2 linked regions of the Homo sapiens genome follow. The protein of the gene in region 1 interacts with the protein of each later gene in a pairwise test. Each region holds a gene or a part of one and is shown in the gene's direction. Other genes may lie near its edges.

Region 1 (4,273 bases):
TTTGTAATTACTTGTGATGTTTTAAAATAAAAATTTTATTCAGTTTTCTGTAGACTTGTATTTGATAAACATTTCTAACTCACATGTTTTTTCTGATTTTTCAGTGACTGTACATAATAGCTTGTAGCGATGTCCATATTTATGATATTATTTTTATAATTTGACAAGAATATGAAAATGAAATATAGAACATTTCTGTGTCAAAAGAGACCTGATTAATATGTCTACTCATTAAAAAACATCTTTTCCAAATACTAATTTTAAATCATTTATTATTAAATAATCCAATGGGAGAGAACTGTGGTAAAAGGCATGTTTGTATTAATTTCCTAGAACTGCTGTAACAAAATACCACAAAATGAGTGACTTAAAGCAACAGAAATTTATTATCTCAGTTCTAGAGGCTAGAAGTCTGAAATCAAGGTGTTGTCAAGGCCGTGATGTCTTTGAAAACCTGTAAGGGAGAGAATCCTTCCTTATTCCTAACTTCTGGTGGTTTACTGGCAATTTCTGGCATTCCTTGGCTTGCACCGGTAGCATTTCAATCTACTTGCATTATCACATGGTATTCTCACCTTGTGTGTCTGTGTTGGCATGACATCTATTTAGTATATTACATGTAAATGTTTTTCCATTATGCTTTTTGGTTCATATTTTCTGTTGGAGGCAGTGTCCTTCGCCATTGCTTTCTGTATGTGGCCTCAACTTTCCCTTTTTAATATCAATCAATACATCTAAGCTAAAAATTCTAATCAAGGTTTTTGGTATGGTTAGCATATAATTCTCATTAACTCTGAAGAAATTGATGTTTTACGGTAAAAATATTTTTAGGCCAACTCCCTTTTCAGGTCTTATTTAACCATTAAATACACACATTTAAAGCAACTCTGGTGTAGGACTTAGGAAGAATGAAGTGTGATGGCTCTTTTTTTATACTTTATAATTTTCTATTGTGATTTCTCTTTTATTGAGTCATTTTTAATTTTTTTTTTACTTTTATTTCTTTGAATATATTTGTTATGAAGTCTTATTGAAGGCTTGACTAATCAAGTATCTGGGCCCATACAGATTTAGTTTTCACTGAATGCTTTTTTTCCTTTAGTATATTTCACTTTCATATGTTTTTACATGTCTAATAATTTTTGGTTGACAGCTGGACATTTTAGGTAGCATATTGTAGCAACTCAATTTTGTTTTATATCTAAGGGATTTGTATTGTTTTAAATTTAGCATTTTGACTGGACTCAAATTGTGGAATCTATCTTATATATGATGTGAAGTTATTGCTGTCTGTGCTCAGTTTTTAAGTTCTTTATTTCAATATTTATTCTTGCTTGCTAGGGGTAGTTCCTGTGTCTGCATAGCTTAGCAGTCAGCCAATCATTTGGACAAAGGTTAAGATCAAACACTTGAGTCTATAAGCCTTCCACCCACTGTTGGTTGTTCTGTGTGGGATGGGGGATGCATTCATTGTAGGAGGCAGTTCCCAAATTCCCCTTGGTTTTTACATTTGCCATGCTCTCTTGAGTCTCCCCTGTGCATGCATCATTTCAGTTTGCCAAAGATGTTTGGAGAGCTCATGTTACCCTTTTCTGCCCTTCTGTTTCCAGGACCTTGTTAAATGTCTGGCTGCTCTGTTGCTCTTCAAGAACTAGGACTGTAACCTTTGGTTAGCAACTACAGATACTCCTTGTCCATTCCTAAGTGATTTTTTTACTTTTGACTTACAAAGTTGTAGGTTTATACCTCTGCTGTAAATCAAGACTCCTCTTACGGCAAAGTTGCTAGTTTTTCAGTTAGCTACAGCCAGACAAAACTGTAGTTTTTACCAATCAACCTAGGGGTGGGTGAGACCTCACTCAAGGAGGCCACAGATTCCAACAGTTCTTTTCCAAAGCTTTAGCAATATTTTTTCTTTATTTTCTTTTTTCTTTTCTTTTCTTTTTTTTTTTTTTTGAGGCAGAGTTTCACTCTTGTTGCCTGGGCTGGAGTGCGATGGTGTGATCTCGGCTCACTGCAACCTCCACCTCCCGGGTTCAAGCAATTCTCCTGCGTCAGCCTCCTGAGTAGCTGGGATTACAGTTGCTTGCCACCACGCCTGGCTAGTTTTTGTGTTTTTAGTAGAGACAGATTTTCACCATGTTGGCCAGGGCTGTCTCGAATTCCTGACCTCAGGGTGATCCACCCACCTCAGCCTCCCAAAGTGTTGGGATTACAGGTGTGAGCCACTGTGCCCAGCTTAAGTGTAGCCTTTCTTTGTCTAAACTGAAAGCCCATATGGTTCAGCAAAGGCTCTCCATTCTGCTTGGTCAGAGCCACGTCTGATTTTTGCCACCTCTGTACTCTGTTCAGCTCATAGGCTTCTGTCATGTCTCAGAATTTTGCTCTGCACATTTGCAGCCTACTGTTCAGCCAACTGTTCAGCCAACTTCTAGGGCTATAATGGCTGATACAGTAGTCACAAGTTGTAGCTATTTAAAATTAATTTAAAATATTGTTTCTTACTTGCATTTGCCACATTTCAAGTGCTTAGTAGCACATGGTACTGGTGGCTACCACATTAGATGTCACAGATACAAGTTGCAGAAAGTTCTGTTCTTGGGCACCTCGTGCAGATTTCTGGAGCTCTTTTTCAGTGGAGTTTCCACTTCTGTACCCTGCATCACAATTCAGTTTTCTCAACAGCCCTAAATTGTGATCTTTCTGTGCCCATTAAGACCACTGTTCTTTTTGAGCTTAACTCTCTGTGTCCAGTTTTGGAGAGTGCCCCCAGGCATAAAACTGGGTGACTATGGAGTTAATTTCATGTCTTTAAAGAATCACAGTCCTGCCTACTTTGTCAGGCAGCCCTCATGCTCATGAAGGGTCTTAAAGAAAGAGACTTCTACCCGGGCATGGTGGCTCATGCCTGTAATCCCAACACTTTGGGAGGCTAAGTCGGGTGGATCATGAGGTCAGGAGTTCGAGACCAGCCTGGCTAACATGGTGAAACCCCGTCTCTACTAAAATACAAAAGTTAGCCGGGCATGATGGCAGGTGCCTGTAATCCCAGCTACTCAGAGGCTGAGGCAGGAGAATTGCTTGAACCTGGGAGATGATGGTTGCAGTGAGCCAAGATCACGCAACTGCACTCCAGGCTGGGCAGCCGAGCAAGACTCTGACTCAAAAAAAGAAAACAAAAGAATCACCGTCCTTCACTTTTGTCCAATGTCTGCATAGAGTTACCTTTTATCTTTTTCTATTTTAAAGTTTGTTGGAGGAGGGCAAATTTGATACCCATTAATCCATCGTGGGCATCACCCATGAGAGTTTTTTTAATGATTTTTCTAATTTTTATTGTTGGATAGGATTCCACAGTTTGTTGTCCATTTACTTACCACATGGATGCATGTGTCTTTAATTTCTTCCAATGGTTACTTACATCTATGTAACTACAATGCAGAAAACAGGAATTTGGCAAGGATACAATGCATGTGTATAGTTCTATTTCATCATATGTGTGAATTTGTGTAACTACTGCAATCAACATAGAACTGTTTCATCATCACTAATTTGTTCTTCATCTCTGTAATATTGTCACTTATATATTGTTGTAGCAATGGAATAATATAGTGTATGACCTTTGGTTTTTCTCACTCAGCATAAAGCCCTTAAGATCATCCAAGCAGTTATACCTATCAATAGCTCATTTCTTTTTTATTGCTAAGTGGTATTCTCTAGTATGGATGACTGTACCACAAATAAAGATGAAGTGAACACTTCCTACAGGTTTTTGTGTAAATTTAAGTTCTTGTTTCTCCGGAGTAATGCCCATATGGGAAGCATACATTTAATTTTTTAGGAAACTGTTTTCCAGATTGGCTGTACCATTTTACATTCCCACAATCAATTTATGAGACACAGTGGTCTCATAAACCCCTTATCTGTGGTTTCACTTTCCTTGAATGCAATTAACCCACAGTTAATCGTGGTCCAAAAATGTTAAATGGAAAATTCCAGAAATAATCCATAAGTTTCAAATTGTGTGCTGTTCCAAATAGCATAATGAAATCCCATGCCCTCCCGCCTGGGACATGAATCCTCCTTTTGTCCAACATATTTATACTATAGACTACCTGCCCGTTAGTCATTAATATTTTCTGCTCTTGACTTTCAACCATTGATACCACCATGGTTCTGTGATCCAGGATCACCTGAAGCAGTTTATCCTCCTGACAATAGTAGCCTAACGCTATGTCACAATGCCTGTGTCATTCACCTCACTTCATCCCAT
Region 2 (7,622 bases), on another chromosome or scaffold:
AGGTGACAGTGGCTTTTAAACATTCATTTGACCGATTATTCTAATTTTCCTTGTTAAATCATTGCAACAGTTGCATGGGGGAGAATGGATATTTTTTGAAGAATTGCTTATTCCACTTTCAATTTTTAAAAATCGAGGGGATTAAAATATTACTTTTTAAATATGCATAAAAGTATCTTAACTGTAATTACATTTTCAGTTGCTTTGTTATAGTAGCATGCATATTAAATATAAAATGCATTTATGAAAATTTTTGTAAAAAATAAAAGATTTTTCATTTCTCAAAGTTGCTTATAATTACTATTTTATATATTTGCATAATATAATACCCTCATGTGAGTATATTTGGTAATTATCAATCACAGTTACTGCTTATGATAAACATAGTACCAAGCTGCATTACCAATCAGTATACTTTACATCCGTACTCTACGTCCTCTGTTAAAGTTCCACAAACTCCAAGAAATTATGGTCCATCCAGAGAAGAGCTCCTTTGCTCAAGCCTCTGTTGGAATTTTTGCTATTGTCAGATATCTCCTGGATTTAAATCATTTTTATGAATACATAACAAATAACTGTCTTCAAATTTTCCATGATGGTGGCCTTTAAAATATAATTTCCATGTCTTTTACTCATATTCAGAATAATGGATACAATTTCTTAAAATAATGAATTCTGCTGTGTCCAAGATAGACAGATTCTGCCTTCTCCATATGTTTGCTATCATCCATTCCTCCCTATTGTTACAGCTATTAGTGTAGTTTGTGCCACCCTTATCTCTTGTCTGGAATATTACAGTGCTTTCTTAACTAGCCTTCATGTTTCCATTCCAGCATCCTCAAATTTCGCCATCCACATTTCAGCCAGGGCAATCTTTCTAAATTGAAAATCTAGATTGAAAATGCCACTTTCCTGCTTAATAGTCCTTCAGTGACTTCCCATAGTTTCCAGGATAAACTTCAAACTCGCTGGTTCAGCACACAGGGACTAGCATCTCTTCTACTCCCTCCTCTATGGAGCCTCGGCTCCAATCATATTCATTACTTTTGTAGTTCCCTAAAAGCATCATACTTTCTTGTGCCTACCTGCCTTTACACATATAGTCCCTTTCTCCTAGAATGCCCTTTCCTCTAATTCCCCTAACTCCAACCATTCATCTTTTAAAACTCAGATTCCAGCATCCTTTTCTCTGAGAAGCTTCCCACGTGGTTGATTGGTTGATGGTCCTTTTGCCCCACCCCCACGTAGACTGAGTTGCTTGAAGTTTTATGCCCAGTGCGGCTCTGGCTGATAGCAGATGCTAAAGAAATGTTAAGGAAAATCCCCTTGGTCCTTTTTCTTGTGTTGCATAGCATTAAGACTGCAATACCTGAAGGTATATTTCCTCTCTCACTGTAATTTATTCCATTCTTGTCATCCAAGCAAAAATAAACTGGTTTGTGGTTGGATTCCCATAGTTCACGGATAGCACCACAAAGATGCTCAGTGGGTTACTCCATAAGAAAACATCATTCAAAAGGATTTACTTTGGGCTCCAGTGAATCTCAAACCCACAAACTGGCTGTTTTCCCAAAAGATTTATTCAGAAATCTCTTTGACATTTGTTTTCCCATGGAAGTTAATATCTTCATGACTGTTCCAAGCCTAGTCAAATCCACCATGTGTTGAAATGAAATGCTGATTACTGAGTTTTGGGTCTAGGTATGGAAGCAGTGCAATGGGGAAATGGAAGAAGTTTGAACACTCATGATTAAACACTTGCACTGGTGTTTGCAGATTTGGAAGTGGAGTAGGGGGAGATAGATGACTGAATTTGAGATATCTCTGCCCTGTCTCATCCTTTTTAGGAGACACGTTTCTTTCCCCCTTTATAGGTTGACTCTAGGTGAAGTATCAAAGAGACCAAGTCTGTCTCTAGTTCCTTCACTTCCCCTTGCCACCAAGGAATTCAAGCTCCTCTCTTTGCTCCCCCTACTTTTCTCCCAGCCATGTGTTAGGAAGAATGGGAGTATGACAAGCGCAGCAGCCAGATGCCAGGAGAACCATGTTCCCTATGCCAATCATCTGTTTTAAATAGCTTCCCTACACTCTGGTTTCCTCAGTGGCAAAATGAGGGGGCATCTAGATCATCTCTAAGGACCCTTTTGGCTAAAGAAATCATATCAAAGTTTATTTCTGGTTTTGAAACCTGATACGTTAATTCCCACAAACCTATGGGAATTACTTGATGACATATCAGTGAATGTAATTCAGTATAGTGAGACAGAGTTCTAGGGAACAGGACCACCAAATGGCAGACCAGCTTTTGGTTTAACCTATTTTCATTTTGCAATGTTTCTTCCATTTCTGGGCCTAAGGCACCCCAGGCTCTAGACCTCCCAAATGTCATTTAAGAAGTCTGAATTTTTTTCACAACAGCCCCCAAAGGGAGAGGGGGGAGCATAAAGGCCTGGCTTGTAAACTAGAGACTGCCTGCCAGCATATTATGGACACGACTAAAGAAAGAATGTTGAAAGATGATAATTGCTTTATACTGCAGCAAGGCTGTGAGATCTTTAACTGAAGGACCATTTCTGATTCACTTCTGTATCCCCAGGACCTACCACAGTGCTTAATACAGATTAAGGTGTTCAGTAAATATTGATTCAATGACTCAAAACCCGAGGTAAAACCAGGTAAGAATGCCTACCATCTGTTCTTTAGAAAGCTAGATTTTGATGATTAATTATCTAGTAAATTGATTATCATAAATGTTTCTGTGAGCAGATTTTAAATAAAATATTCAGTGATTATATTACAAAAATACTGTGGATATATATGTGCTTATATTCGCACATACAAGACTGAGGTGTTACAGAAAAACCTTTAAGCTTTTCATAGTTTTATCTCTTCAAACTGCATTTTAAATGTTATGAAATATTTCCACTTTTTAGAATAAAAAGATGGTTATTGTTATGTGCATAATATGCTCATCTGATGTCGCCAGATGGTTCAACCTAGGGTATGGAGAGAAAGGGAGGTAATTCCAACATATCTCTAATTGACAGAGCAGAAGAGTTTGCTACCGAGCAGTCAATGGGCTCACTGCCTGATGAATGCAGAGGCTAATACCATGGCACTGGCTTTTGGGAAAAGAAAAGCTTTATTGCAAGTGGGCTGGCAAGGAGACAGGAGGAAATGCTCAAATCTGTCTTCCTAAGCTGGGGTTTGGTTTGGTTTTTATAAGCATAGGGTAAAGAGATGTGATCTGATTGGATCTTGTAATGAGGTGATGCTGGGAGGCATGATCTGACTGGATCCTGCTATGGGATGAAGCCAGAGCTCAACCCGGTTGGATCCTGCCATGCCATATCTACTTCTTAATTCAGTCCCTCCTCCTTGATCTGAGCACTTGGTTTCCCCTGTGGCTGCATGCTTGGTTCATCTAGGCATGCTCAGGTTACATGACCTCAGGGTTCATGGCAACTGAAAAACAACTCACAATTTTGTTACATAAAAGTTGAACCAAGGCTGGGCAAGGTGGCTCACACCTGTAGTCCCAAGAATTTAGGAGGCCAAGGCAGGAAGATCACGTGAGGCCAAGAGTTCAAGACCAGCTGGGATAACATAGCAAGACCCCGTCTCTATAAAAAAATTTACAAATCAGCTGGGCATGGTGGCATGTGCCTGTAGTCTTAGCTACTCGGGAGACAGAGGTGGGAGGATCACTTGAGCCCAGAGTTTGAGGCTGCAGTGAGCTATGATTGTACCACTCCACTCCAGCCAGGGTGACAAGCCAGACCCTGTCTTAAAAAAAAAAAAAAAAAAAAAAGAGGAGAAGGGGAAGGGGAAGGGGAAGAAAGAAGAAAGAAGAAAGGAGAAAAGAAGAAGAAGAAGAAGAAACAGATCGGTCTGGTGCAGCAACAAGTTGAGGCCCAGGGCACAAGGAGGAGAGCCCCTATGGAATCTTCTACCTTAACCACAAGGATGCCCAGATGTCTAGAGATGGCTCCTGGACACAGGCTAAGGGACTGTTTGTCGTCCAGAAGCAGCCTCCTAGAGCCCGGGATCTTCAGAGGCTTGGTTAGCCTCTTAATTACCATAGCTTCCCAGTCAGTTGCAGGCCCAGGGGACTGAAGTTGATTCCTCAGGGAGAAGCTCCTTGTCACTTTAAGGTGCATTCAGTCCTCTTTGTGACCTTCCTGCACTGAGGCCAACCCCTCACAAGACTGCCTGTGCTGGTGGCCTAAAACTCCATTACTAAGGCCTTATGCAGTGCTGATAGGGAGAGCTTGCTCAGAGGAAGTGTTGGGCCCACCCAAAGGAGGGAACGCCTTTACTCCTGCATGCCCAGTTGAATTAAGCATGCAGCCACAGGCGAAACCTAAGTGCTCAGACGGAGGAGGAGGGGCTGAATTAAACCTTTTTCTGGACGAGGAAAAAGTTTTTTCCAAAAAACTCTCGTTTCGCTGGAGTTGAAGGAACCTGCGCCAGAAGGCCAGAAACCACTGGGCCCCTATAGGAAGGCTGGGCGGCTGCCGCGCTCCTCCGTTTTCCCAGAAGCCTCTGCGCGGCCTCACAGAGATAAAAGCGCGGGAGCGAGGCCCGGCGGCTCCAGTTCTGGGGCTTTTGCTTTCGCTCGATTAGTTGCTGTGAGGCTGCTCCGCGGGCCTCGCCTGGACGCTGACTCCCTGTGACTTAGCCCTGATCCTCAGGAAGGCAGGCCATCGAGAGTCCAGAGGCACCCGTGGCCTGGGGGTAGGGTGGGATAGCAATGTGGCCGCTACGGGTCTATACCCGCAAAAAGCGGGAGGGTCAGAGGCTCAATCTCACCCCGACGCCAGACCTAGGCTCTCCAGCGAAGGCCGAGGCCCCGCCAGGTACAGGCTCAAGGCTCGCCCACCGTAAGCTCAGCCGAGCTGCCTCCGGGACGGGACCGAGGGCGGGCGGGGGTGCTAGGCCTCGGGCCCAGGACCCCCCCGAAGCCGGTGGGTAGGTTTCTTGCCCTGAAACGTGCCGCCCTCTCTCAGGTTCGAAGAGAAAAGGCAAAGTGCACGGCTTGTCGAAGATTGCAGAGAAAGCAGAGCGGAGCAGGCAGGGAGGTAGCGGCTCTGGGCCGTTCAGGTATGTAGCCTCCAGTAACAGCCCGATCCTAGCTTGCCACCTCAGAAAACTTCAAGCCGAATTTTCTGCTAGTAGCCTTTTATTCTAACAGTCAAGGAGCAAAACAAATACAGTACTCTGATTTTGCTCTTCTCAGAACATGGACCCCAAAATTTGACTTCAGGAAGATTTATTTTTAAAAAGGGGAAGGCTTGCCAATTTACGTAAAAGGAAGTGAGATAAATTGGTCGGTGAGCTATACGATTGTGTCACTGCATTTGGGTTTTGGTGCAAGTCACCACTCTGGTCCTTACTTCTTCCTAAAGATGTCCCTAAAGAGCCTTTCAGATTCTAAAGAGTCTGAACAGAGACGTGGAGAGCCAAATCCAGATGGTGCAAACTAATTGCGTTGTCTCTTTGTTAGCCCTCGCTTAGGAGTTACAGGAGAGAAAAGCCTGCAAGAAAATAGGTCTAGTGAAGACACCCAGGATGAGAAGATTGCATCGTTGCGTGTATGTATGCTTCTCTTTTAGTCCTTGGACACACTTAGTGTAGAGACTATCAGTACCTGATGTACCTCCGGATGAAAGAATAAAATGGGCTTTGTTCTGTAGATGTTACATAGCTCACCAGTATTTTTATAAACACTTACGTGTCTTTAGACAGGGCCTTGAATTTCTGACTTGGGTAGATTCATAGTCATGCATTTTTGTTTTTCTCTTTCTCTTGACACGTTTTTGGAGAAACGTCCATAATTGGTGAATTTTCTGTATGACAAATACAAAATGTTACTTAATAACTCCTTTTTTCATGTTTTCCATTTGATTTTCCATTAACAACTGGAAACATTCATTACTAAGGGTTTAATATGTTACAGAGCATTCTAATGTTTATTCATTAGAATATTTTATAACTTCTTGATGTGCTGTATTTAATATGAATTCTGTACTATATTTTAAAGTTGTACAGCACTAATTTAGGGAAGCTCAGATTTTAAAAATTGCTTGTGACTCATCTGACATTAACATTAAACTTCATAGTCAAGTTCCTTTTTTTTTTTTTTTTGGAGACAGAGTCTTGCTCTGTCACCCAGGCTGGAGTGCAGTGGCACAGTCCTGGCTCACTGACTGCAGCTTCTGCCTCTCGGGTTCAAGCGATTCTCCTGCCCCAACCTCCTGAGTAGATGTGATTACAGGTGTATACCACCACCCAGCTAATTTTTGTATAGAGGGGGTTTCTCCAGGTTGGCCAGGCTGGTCTCGAACTCCTGACCTCAAGTGATCTGCTCGCCACGGCCTCCCATAGTGCTGAGATTACAGGCTTGAGCCATCACACCTGGCCAAGTTCTATTTTTTTTTAACTTAATATTCCTTTATAACATGTTTTTGGGGGAAGGCAGTTTCAACACAAGACATTTTTTTAAAAGGCTTTTATCCATAGTTTAACAGTGTAAAGTAGTCCTTGTAGAGTATTTATACTATGAAAAAATAGTGTTTTGAAAGTTTCTTAAAATTTTTATATATTTCTGTTCCTTTTCTCCTGTGCTTTAAAAAAAATGACCAGTTGTCTTATTGTATATTCCCATACATTAAATAGTCTTCAAAAATATGACTTTCAGTGTCTTCATAGTGCTTTGTCTTGTAGATAGATACACTGTAATTTGTATTACTATTTCCCTGTGGTTGGGAAATTGAGATTGTTTCCAAGGTTTTGCTGTTATTGATATCCATAGACATTCTGTTACAGAAGGTTTTTGTGTACCTCACATTGTTACCCTAAGATAAATACTTTGCAGTGGATCACAGGTTGGATCATGTTTCAAGTTTTTTTATTCATGTTGATAAATCAGCACCATCTTACCTGAAACTTTTATATATATGTGTGTGTATATATATGAAATAGATAGATAGATAGATGAAAAGTAGCATGTTTTTTACTTTTCATTTCTTTGAATGCTGGGGAAGTCGATATTTTTTTTCTCAAATTATTGGCCATTTGTACTGTTTTGTGAAATGTCTATTAAATATTAAAGATAGCTATACTTTTGTACATACATATATAACCAATATTTCCATATTTGTTTACTTGCCTTTAATTTTATTTCTAGTATTTTAGACTTACTAGTCTTTTCTTTTGATTTATATATTTGCCTCTATAGATGGAAAAAAAGCCCCTCCCCACTAGGGAACCAGAAAAATATTCACCTCTATCTTCTATTTGCTGTCATCCCACAGTAGTTACTTGACTAGCATATTGTTGATTACAAGATATGTTCATAGTATTATATTTTAATATTTATTTTTAGGTTTAATATTAAATATCAGATTACATCTGAACAATAAACTGAATGAATGTATTATATATATGAAACATATAAAAAGTTGATGTTTTCATTTTTCTAAAATAAATCTGTACAAGATTATAATATAGAAATGGTCAATCTCATAATTTTGCTATAGCTTTAATTCTTATTTCACTTAGGAATCAGTTACTGATGACCTCCAGGTTGATAGTAGTTCATCAAATAGTGAACTAGTATC

What was found. The genes of interacting proteins can lie anywhere in the genome.
Region 2: the proteins of CENPC (region 1) and MEIKIN interact in a two-hybrid assay, tested with the Homo sapiens proteins (one study listed by IntAct).

Annotation. Positions count from the first base shown.
Region 1 is NC_000004.12:67,468,256-67,472,528, reverse strand, and holds the end of CENPC (centromere protein C), read left to right. Parts: 3' UTR 1-3,767; downstream 3,768-4,273. UniProt on the Homo sapiens protein: Component of the CENPA-NAC (nucleosome-associated) complex, a complex that plays a central role in assembly of kinetochore proteins, mitotic progression and chromosome segregation.
Region 2 is NC_000005.10:131,942,637-131,950,258, reverse strand, and holds the start of MEIKIN (meiosis-specific kinetochore protein), read left to right. Parts: upstream 1-4,595; 5' UTR 4,596-4,753; coding exon 4,754-4,859; intron 4,860-5,009; coding exon 5,010-5,103; intron 5,104-5,506; coding exon 5,507-5,594; intron 5,595-7,563; coding exon 7,564-7,622. UniProt on the Homo sapiens protein: Key regulator of kinetochore function during meiosis I: required both for mono-orientation of kinetochores on sister chromosomes and protection of centromeric cohesin from separase-mediated cleavage.